Linked DNA regions of Homo sapiens: all the other regions are reported to be linked to region 1. The links are microRNA targets in miRTarBase. Many come from high-throughput screens and were not tested one by one. Region 1 holds a microRNA gene; each other region holds the end of a gene's coding sequence.
What was found. The annotated mature microRNA hsa-miR-4446-5p reads AUUUCCCUGCCAUUCCCUUGGC and lies in region 1 at 1,916-1,937, opposite strand. An mRNA with a match to its seed (bases 2 to 7 or 8) in the 3' UTR can be bound and repressed. Matches are read on the target gene's strand: a 7mer-m8 pairs with bases 2 to 8, a 7mer-A1 pairs with bases 2 to 7 and ends in A, and an 8mer does both.

Region 1 (3,252 bases):
TCTGTTGTACCCCAGTTCCTGGTGGCAACTCAAGGGGTCCCAGAGGCCTGTTGGGGAGGCTTCATTATTTTTCTCAGCTGGTAACTGAATTTCTGTAGAGGCTCTTTAACAATGATGTGAAATGTGGGGTTTCTCTCTGATAAAGCCAGTGGAGGAAATGGTTTTAGAGCACAGAGCCTTTCTTAGTACCTCTCAGATTCTCACAGATGCCCTGTCTTTGGTATTAAGGATAATTAGACAATACAGGGTCCAGTCATTCATAGTACAGTAAAAAAGTCCCTTCAAGTCCCCTGGAGCAGCTCTTTGCCAACAGTATTTCCATCTCACCCAGGCTCCAGGGTCTAATCTTCTTCTTCATCCCATGAAGTATGAAATACATTTTTTTGCTTTTTATTATAGTTGGAGCTAACATGGAGATTTTCACATACAGCTTAATTAAATCACTTCAGGCATATCAAAGAAAAACAAATGCAGAGTAGCGCACAGATTTTCTGAGTGCATCCTTCCTAACTCCAACAGAGCTGCCACCAATTTGGCAACCTGTAGGGACCTGATTCCATTTCTTCCACTTCAGTCACGTCTAAGGTGAAAGCCTTAGGCTAAGTTCCACAGATATCTAGCTCCACAATGATGTGGGCAGAGACCGTATTAAGTCTAGTGGGATCCTCTTCCCCTTTAAGAAGCTGCTTCTAGCATTTTCTCTGGATATAAGCACCCAAGGCATTTCCTGTAACTCTGAGCTCCATCGAACTTCCTGTGCCCCATGGTCATGCTGATCCTGGCCTTGGGAGAGAAAGACATTTCTGTATCCTTGTTTCTTCCCTGAATGTCTGTCACTAGCTTCCAGATATGGTCCTTACTTGCCTCTGTCTCTTGCTCCTGGTTGATTTCTCTATGCTCTGTTTGAGATGCCTAAAAAAGTCACTGGTTCTTCCCTTGGGCAGTGCTTGTCTTCTGCTCTTGGTTTAAGCATCTAGGTCTTGACTCACCAGTGGTCATGACATTGGGGGTGATGCCATCATTCCCTGTGGCCTCTCTACCTTACAAAGGTTCCTTATTTTCTTCCTATTTCAAGACTTTTGTGTGGTGAATATTCCTATTCCCTACTTCTTACCTAAGCTGGTGTGTTATTTAGGTGTCTTCATGTGTTTAGGTCCATGGTTCTCAAACAGGGGGATGTGGGGAAAGAGTTTTGCCCCCAAAAAGACATTTGGCAATGTCTGGAGGCTTTTTTTTTTTTTGAGACACGGTCTTGCTCTGTCACCTAAGTTGGAGTGCAGTGGTGCGATCTCAGCTCACTGCAGCCCCAACATCCTGGGCTCAAGCGATCCTCCCATAGCAGCCTCCGAAGTAGCTGGAGCACAGGTGCACACCACCACGCCCACCTAATTTTGTTTATTTTTTGTTTTTATGAAGACGAAGTCTTACTATGTTGCCTAGGCTGGTCTCGAACTCCTAGGCCCAAACAATCCTCCAACCTCGGCCTCCCCAAATGCTGGGATTACAGGCATGAGCAACTGCACCAAGCCTGGAGGCATTTTTAGTTGTCCCAAGGAGGGGCAACTCCTAGAATCTAGTGCACGGAAGTGAAGGATGCTATTAAACATCCTATAAGATACAGAATAGCCCCCAACAACAAAGAATTATCTGGCCTATGATGTCAATAATATTGAGTTTGAGAAACTCTGGTCTTAGAGAAGAGGACCTAATCTTAATTCTGAAAGTAGGTTTATCTGATGTGTAGGTAAATCTGTTCTTTGCAGTGACTGGTTTAACAATAAGTGTATGATTCACTCTAGGCCAATGAAACACAAGAAGTTGCTGAGGGCTTCTTAAAAGGTCCTTCCCTCTGGTGCTGCCAGGTGAAGGTGTGAGCCTTGACCCATGTCACTGCCAGCCCTGGGAGTAAATTGAAGCCAAGGGAATGGCAGGGAAATGGACCAGAGCCACTGGACTCATCAATCCTGAAGTACATCTTTTGGCTCTACTTCCAGAGCTAGGAGTCTCTTTCTTGATTAAGCAGGTTTGAGATTTTTTTTTTCTTGTTGCTGTGGTTACCTACAGCCACATGAATCTCAATGATGCATCTTTACTCTTTTTGGTCACTCATTTGTTTCCGCTTACCATCAGAAGGGTACCTCCAGCTCTTAGCTAATTTTCAGAGCCTCCCTGAACCTGGACAATGATCTGGCTCAAGTCCCAGCTTTGTCCACTTATGCTTCAATGTTCAACAGACCCTTCTGAATGCAGAATTCCTTCAATAAATATTATTATAATAAAAAGACTTCACTCATACTATAAAAAATAACAGACTAACCATTCAGAGGCTACCCAATGGGATTCAATCGATTGGATGTAGGCCTAAGTTCAACTAGGCCTAAACTAATCACAAAACTTGGAGGCACAAAACTTTTTTCCTGTAGGAAAAAAGATGACATCCAGAGAGCAGACAAATTCATTTAAACATCTGACGACTAAAAGGGAGAGGAGCATTTAGCACTTTAAAGCCACGAGAGCAGGTGTTCTTTTATAGTCTTTTATATTGACAGCTGAATGTTTATAAAACAAAGTGCTTGGGTGGCTGGAAAAACAGGCATGCTGACATTAAGGAAGACAAACATTAAAAAGAAAAAAGCAAACTCTCCAGCAAAGGGAGCAATGATCCTGCTGGAGGGGGGTAGGGGGTGAGTTAAAGTCTTTCTAAGATTCTGTGGCCTCATTTAAGTGTGGAAAACACACACCTAAACATCTGCTATGTATGACTTAAAAACCAAGTTCCACTTCATATTCCTCTTTAACCAAATTCTTGCTCTATGCCAAATAACCTATGAGCACTGAGTTTAGGTTTTTCAAAAATGAGGACATTTAAATTTTTAATTTTGTTAAAAAGATCAGGTCATTGAATTCTTTTGTTCAAACTCTCAGAGTGGAGGAAAAGGCATAGTACAATTGCTGGATAGTCAATTACTCTGGATTCCCCCAAGTTATTATACTCTTTATTATACTTGCTAGGGTCAAGTATTTCAGTTTTCTAGACACTTAAGAAAGCCTCCATCTTAGTTTGGGAAAAAGTAAACCATGTATCAGAGTTGGCACAATACATTCTTACTGTTGTTCACAAATCAGCTTTGGGATAGGACAGGTATGAACAATTATGTCCTAGAAAAGGTGAAACTTTTAAAAAAGATGAATGGCTGACCAATGATCTGTGATTACAAGGGACACTCCTAGTAAAGGTTTTTAGTGTGAGCT
Region 2 (3,252 bases), not on the chromosome of region 1:
AATTCAAGCAGTGGCTTTAACTGACCTTTTTTTTTTTTTATCTGAATTAAGATCATTTGGGCCACACCTATGAGCTGAGGTCTAGTTCAGATTTGTTGGAGAATGCTCACCCATCAGTAATTTTTTGACTGATTCAAGCCCCTTGACCAATGGACATTAGAGGATGAATGAGAAAGTGGAATACATTAAGTAACTTAGAATGAAGAAAAATCATAGCATAAGAGATACATTTTTGACACTTTGTAACATGTAAATTATAATTAATACATAAATTTGCACCAATTACTTGACTCAAGAGCTCAAAACTTTCTGTAATGGGTTTGAAGCACAAAAATACAGTGTTTATAGTCAGAGTGCAGCCTTTACTTTCAATAATGGTTATGGAAAGCAAGTTTGGCTTTAGGTTGTAAAGAGTTTTTCAGTGCCAAGGCATTTGACTGCCCTTTCTTTCTTATTCTCCATTGTCTTGCAGACCAGATGATGTGCTTCTGCATCGCACTCATGATGAGATTGTCCTCCTGCATTGCTTCCTCTGGCCCCTGGTGACATTTGTGGTGGGCGTTCTCATTGTGGTCCTGACCATCTGTGCCAAGAGCTTGGCGGTCAAGGCGGAAGCCATGAAGAAGCGCAAGTTCTCTTAAAGGGGAAGGAGGCTTGTAGAAAGCAAAGTACAGAAGCTGTACTCATCGGCACGCGTCCACCTGCGGAACCTGTGTTTCCTGGCGCAGGAGATGGACAGGGCCACGACAGGGCTCTGAGAGGCTCATCCCTCAGTGGCAACAGAAACAGGCACAACTGGAAGACTTGGAACCTCAAAGCTTGTATTCCATCTGCTGTAGCAATGGCTAAAGGGTCAAGATCTTAGCTGTATGGAGTAACTATTTCAGAAAACCCTATAAGAAGTTCATTTTCTTTCAAAAGTAACAGTATATTATTTGTACAGTGTAGTATACAAACCATTATGATTTATGCTACTTAAAAATATTAAAATAGAGTGGTCTGTGTTATTTTCTATTTCCTTTTTTATGCTTAGAACACCAGGGTTTAAAAAAAAAAAAAAGGTGAGGACATCTGGGTCTCATTTGCTTCTGCTAGGTTAAACTTTTACTTGACAACAAGGATTCCTGCTGAAGTCTGAACCTTACTGTGTAACCCTCAGTTTCCACTATTAAAGAGTATCTTTTGACGTCTGCTTGGAAAATGAATAGTATACTGGTAACTCAGTCTCCAGTCACCTCTGTGTCTCTTAAGCAAGAGATTCTAAAAGATTGGGAAAACATATCCTCCAACACCTGCCTTTGCCTAACCATTATTTTTCACCAGATTACTTCTTAAGAGAGGGAGGTGATTCTGAAGAAGGCTTCTATCTCAAAAAGCACTGGGCTTCCTTATTCATCTGTTCTTGTTGTTTTTGACGGAGTTAAAAAAGTTTGTGTGCAATACAATATACATGATGTGAAGGACACTCTTCAGCTTAGTGAAACGCTGTTTTCATTTTTTTTTTTTTTTGTAGGTCAGAAAAAAACAACAAAATCAGTTCAAGCATTTTTTTTTCTTTGTCCTTGCCTTGATGTTATGAGTATTAAAACCAGGAGGATTGCTGCCATTGTGCAGTTTGCTTAGACAAACCTGGAGATGCAACCCAGCTCACATCATTGCTACTGATGAGCTTTCTGTGCCTTTATCAAAAGTTGATTGAGAAGACCATATTTCTTTGTATCTTTTTATAAACTCAAATTCCAAGTATCAAATCGCAGGTCTCAGTGAACATCAAACCTATTTACTACATAGAATCAAACCTTTGTTTAGGTGAGATGTACATCGTTAGTGGAGGAAAAACTGACAACCTAATTTCATTTGTTTTCTTCTGATACTCTTCAGACATGCCTCTATTAGAATAAAGGTAAACTGGAATTTAAAGACAAGTTCCCCTCAGTTATTTCCATGGAGCTGTAATATGTATATATGGAGTGATGGTTTCCTGACCTTTAGTCCACATACCAATGTTTTCTTTTTTCTTTTTTTTTTTTTTTTTTGAGATGGTGTCTCACTCTGTTGCCAGGCTGGAGTGCAGTGGCACGATCTCGGCTCACTACAGTCTCCACCTCCTGGGTTCAAGTCATTCCTCTGCCTCAGCCTCCCGAGTAGCTGGGACTACAGGCACGCACCACCACGCCTGGCTAATTTTTTTGTATTTTTAGTAGAGACGGGGTTTCACCGTGTTAGCCAGGATGGTCTCAATCTCCTGACCTTGTGATCTGCCCACTTCACCTCCCAAAGTGCTGGGATTACAGGCCAATGTTTTCTTAATCTTAGAATGTGAATAACTGAAAATCATAGTCTGTGGAAAGGTGTTGAATTGAGTATAATCTTCTTCTGTTTATTTTTGTGTTTTGTTTTTTAACAGATGGGTATCTTGCTATGTTGCCCAGGATGGAGTGCAGTAGCTATTCACAGGTATGATCATAGCACACTGCAGCCTCAAGCTCCTGGGCTCAAGCGATCCCCCTCCCTCAGCCTCCCAAGTATCTGGGGTTACTGGTGTGCACCACCGTGCTTGGCTCCAATAATTTTTTTTCTAATTCAAAAGTTACAGTTTCACTGTGAAAAAGGCCTTGAACACACTATTTATGACATCTTTTGAGGCAGCTCCAGTGCCTTGACTTCAATCCCAGTTTCCGGTTGCAGCATCCTTGTTGTCTTAGCAACACAGTGAACTATTCTGAAGCATAGAGTAACACGAAACTGGGAGTCCGAGAAATAATCATCTCTGCATCACATTATGGGAGACGAAGTCTGCTTTATCCATTTTATCTTTATTCAGTTGTCTATGATTAATTGATTACAGAGTAGTAGATTAGAATAGTGCATGGATATACATTTGTGTTGAAAAAAGGGGAAGTTGATATATATCAATCTTAGTTTTCATTTATCAGTTTGATATTCATGCATTTACACTAAACGCTTCCATTTATCCCGAAAAAGTATATGCAACTGTATTCTGTAGGTTGATTTTTGGAAAAGGGGAGAAGCACACTGAATTCATAAGGTCACATGTAGTCTTAAGGTCTTACTTGCTTACAGCCAATTAAATTTGAAGCACCTTATTTATACTTGTTAAAGGTAAAACCCAAAAGAACAAGCAGAGGACATTTTAAGGTCATAAAAGGTAAATAAGCTTACCTTCTTAATGTTTTCATTCTCTTTTTGTATAAATCAGAAAATGATCTAAACTGCTGTAACAAAGAGACC
Region 3 (3,252 bases), not on the chromosome of region 1:
CCCGCATCCCCCCGGTGGCCGCCCGGCTGCAGATGTCGGAGCGCAGCATCCTGAGCCGCCTGACCAACCGCGCCGGGGACCCCACCATCCAGCAGGTCAGGCTCGGCCTGTGTGCCCCGGCCCGAGCCCCCTGGCGTGCCCCTGGGTGGAGGCTGGGTGGGGGGCCTGAGACCACCTGTGAAGCTGAGTCCTTGCCTCCAGGGCGCTTTCGGCTCCTCCCAGATGTACAGCAACAACTTTGGGCCCAACTTCCGGGGCCCTGGACCGGGAGGGATTGTCAACTACAACCAGATGCCCCTGGGGCCCTATGTGACCGGTAGGTGCCCGTCCGCTCCGGGCAGCATGCACACGGGTGCCCGCCGGGCCCGGCCTGCCTGCTGCTGCCAACGTCAGGCAAGCCCGGCTCTCCTCTTTTTTTGACAGATATCTAGCCGTCCTCGAGACTTCCCTGTGTTGCAGCGCTCATTTCCAGCTGAGGTGAGGGCTGCTGGGTGCTGTGTTCCTCCCCGCCACCCCATTGCTGGCAAACCAGGCCTGGCCACAGTCAGCCCTGCCCCTGCACTTGACTCCCGTCCCTAAGTCCTGGAGCTTTTACTGCCTCCGGCGGCTTTGAGAGCCACCCACCTGCCTGGAGCCCCTCTACCTTGCCCCCTTGGCCCTGGGACCACCTTGTGGCCAGCGTGTCTGTCCACTGGGAGGCTGGGGTGGCAGGACATGAAGGGGTCGGTGGACTTGGGTGAGCTCCTGTGTGTGCACATGTGTTCTCATTTGCACACATGTTCCCAGCGGAAGTCAGAGACTGCTGCCCCCGCCTGGAGCCCTGTCCTGCCCCTGCTGTCCTGCTGGTGGCAGACATCACATCTTGTCTTACACCCTCACTTCCTGCCCAGGACCAGGAGGGTGGCTGAGGGTTTTGTGGGGGCTATTGGCCAGGAGAGGGGGCTTATTTCAGAGAAACTGCCAGTTCATTCTGGTCTTCTCTGGGGCCACCAGCCTCCACTACGCTGTGTCTGTCCCTGTGGGAACCGTGTCTTGCTGGAGGAGGCTCCAGAGGGGCTTCCTGGCTGGCTGCCCCTGCCCACTGCTGCTTCCTGGGTGCTCTCGGCACTCTGGGTGTAGCTCATGGCCTGGCCCGGCAGCCTGTGGCTGGGAGGTCATGGCTGGGGGGCACCCCGATCATAGTTGGTTGTGATAGGTGGAGAAGCAGCTACAGGCTGTTGGGTGCCACCCTGATGCCCCCTATAACTGCCCACCTGCTTAACCCACTGATTTGCGTTTTGCAGCCACGCCTGCCGGGCCACCTGCCCGACCCACATGGGAGAGAAAAGCTGCCACCTTTTTAGGAGCCAGCGCCACCTTGGGACAAAAAGGGAAACCTAGTAATGCCATCACATGGAGGACGAGGCCCAGCTCAGCTGGGCCAGAGCCCAGAAGTGCCACCTCATCATAATTCAAGTGTTCTTCCACACAGCGTTGCCCCCACAACCACGCCGGACGTGCCCCCTCGCCACCTTTTCCAGACGACTTCTTAGAAGAGATTTCATTTATTTGTACATCTTTTGCACTTTCCTATTGAAGACTTGAACACGTTTGTCTTGATAAAAGTTGGATGACGTATGGAAGATTCGAACCTGCAGCACTGATGTCTCTTTACCGATGGGTTCCAGACCCAAGGTAGTCCTGGCACTGCCCTGTGGACTCAGCCCAGCTGGGGAGGACATGGCGCCCGGTGCCCTAGGAGCCCTCAGTGTCCCCTACCTGACCTGTCTGCACCTGTGTGACAGCCCCTTCTGATTTGGCCCCCTGCCCGCTTGGAGCCTCCCAGCACCAGACAGGGCAGGTTTGGGGAGCCGCTGTCCAGCCCTATGGTGAGACCCTGGCTGACATTTCCCCTCCTTCCTGCCAAGGCTGGAGGCCGCCAGGTGTTTGCTCTCTCCTTGTGGGGAGGTGGATCCTCTGCCAGCAGGTGTCTGTCCCCGGCCCAGCGCATCTTGAAGGCCCTGGACTCTGTTACCAGTGGGGGGCCTGTGGCCCCGGCTCTTCACAGCAGGCAGAAGCGTATGATCCCAGGGAGGGTGGGCTGGGGGGGGGGCAGCACTTGCCTCGGAGCCACTGCTGCGTTGGGTTTGCCTTCTGCCAGAGGTGTGGTTAAGGGCAGTGATAGCTGCGCCCCAGCAAGGAGGGTCATGGGCCCTGAGCTGGCCCAGGAGACCCTGGCCCTGCCCTGTGCCCTGGGATGCCTACCCTGCCCACCTCCGGAGGTGGAACCGGGCTGCCCCTGGGGGCCTGGACTTGTCCCATTCCCCTGTCCCTGGAAAGGCCTTCCCGGGGGCTTTTTGCCTGAGGCTGCACTCTTGGAAGGCGTGGGGAGAGTTCTGCCTGGAGGGGGACTGGACCCAGTGCCCTCTGCAGACCCCTCCCAGCCGCAGCACCAAGGGCTTGCTGCCTTGTTTCCTGCCAGGAGCGCCCTGACATCCCAAAACCATCTTCCCACATGTGGGTTGTTGGAATCCCACCCACTCCCCCGGACCCTGCCCCTCCAAGTTGGGGACGGAGATGGGGAGCAGGTCAGGCCCTCCCTAGGCCTGTTTGTGTGTGATCCTTCTCCTGGCCCCAGGTCGACCTGGAAGGCGTTTCTGAGTCTTGTACTGGGACCTTCCCAGGGAAGGTGCCTTGGGGTGCAGAATCCTGGGAATGTTAGGAAAGGGCTGCGTGAAAAACCCAGCTGGGCCTGGGGTGGAGGTGCACACGGGCTGGGGCTCAGCTCCTTGGAGAGGGCCTGCCTGGGACTGAGGGGGCCAGGGCTGGGTCAGGATTCACCAGCTTGTGTTGCAGACACTGGAGCGATTGCCTGGCCCTCCCTAAGCCCTATATGCCTCACTCATAATGAGGCTGTCTCTGAACCCCGGAGGGCGGGACCTACAAGTCCTTCCTCTTGGCGCATTCCCACACTCCAGTCTGGATCCAGGTCTGCAAGGCCAGCCCGACCCTGACACTGCACGTGGGCGTAGTGGGGAGCACCCTGGAGTGGAGATGATTGTCAGCGGGCTCACATGTTATGGTTCATCCACATGCGTGTTGTGTGCTCTGCGGTGCCTCCTGGCAAAGGGTCCTGGCTCGGGTCAGAAGCTCACTCCCGTGCCCTCGTCCCCAAACAAGCAGTGGCAAGCACTGGGGTTGGCCCTCGTTGGGAGCAGTGCCCACCTTCCTTGGCCCACAGCAGATAGGTCCCGAGCAGCAGGACTGGAGGCC

Region 2: the mRNA of KCNMB4 is a reported target of hsa-miR-4446-5p. Seed matches in the 3' UTR shown: 7mer-A1 at 1,271-1,277.
Region 3: miRTarBase lists CHD5 as a target of hsa-miR-4446-5p. Seed matches in the 3' UTR shown: 7mer-m8 at 1,369-1,375.

What each region holds. Positions count from the first base shown.
Region 1 is chr3:113,593,568-113,596,819 of GRCh38, reverse strand. It overlaps MIR4446 (microRNA 4446), which reads right to left and starts at 1,944; the gene lies at 1,878-1,944. The region is part of intron 10 of SIDT1 (SID1 transmembrane family member 1); the gene reads right to left.
Region 2 is chr12:70,430,013-70,433,264 of GRCh38, forward strand. KCNMB4 (potassium calcium-activated channel subfamily M regulatory beta subunit 4) reads left to right here. Exons shown (of 3, transcript NM_014505.6): 3 at 473-3,252. The coding sequence ends at 641. Among named protein-coding and RNA genes, the nearest start is that of PTPRB-AS1, 36 kb to the right of the region's middle.
Region 3 is chr1:6,103,459-6,106,710 of GRCh38, reverse strand. It overlaps CHD5 (chromodomain helicase DNA binding protein 5), which reads left to right. Exons shown (of 42, transcript NM_015557.3): 39 at 1-95; 40 at 202-316; 41 at 424-477; 42 at 1,284-3,252. The coding sequence ends at 431. Among named protein-coding and RNA genes, the nearest start is that of KCNAB2, 59 kb to the right of the region's middle.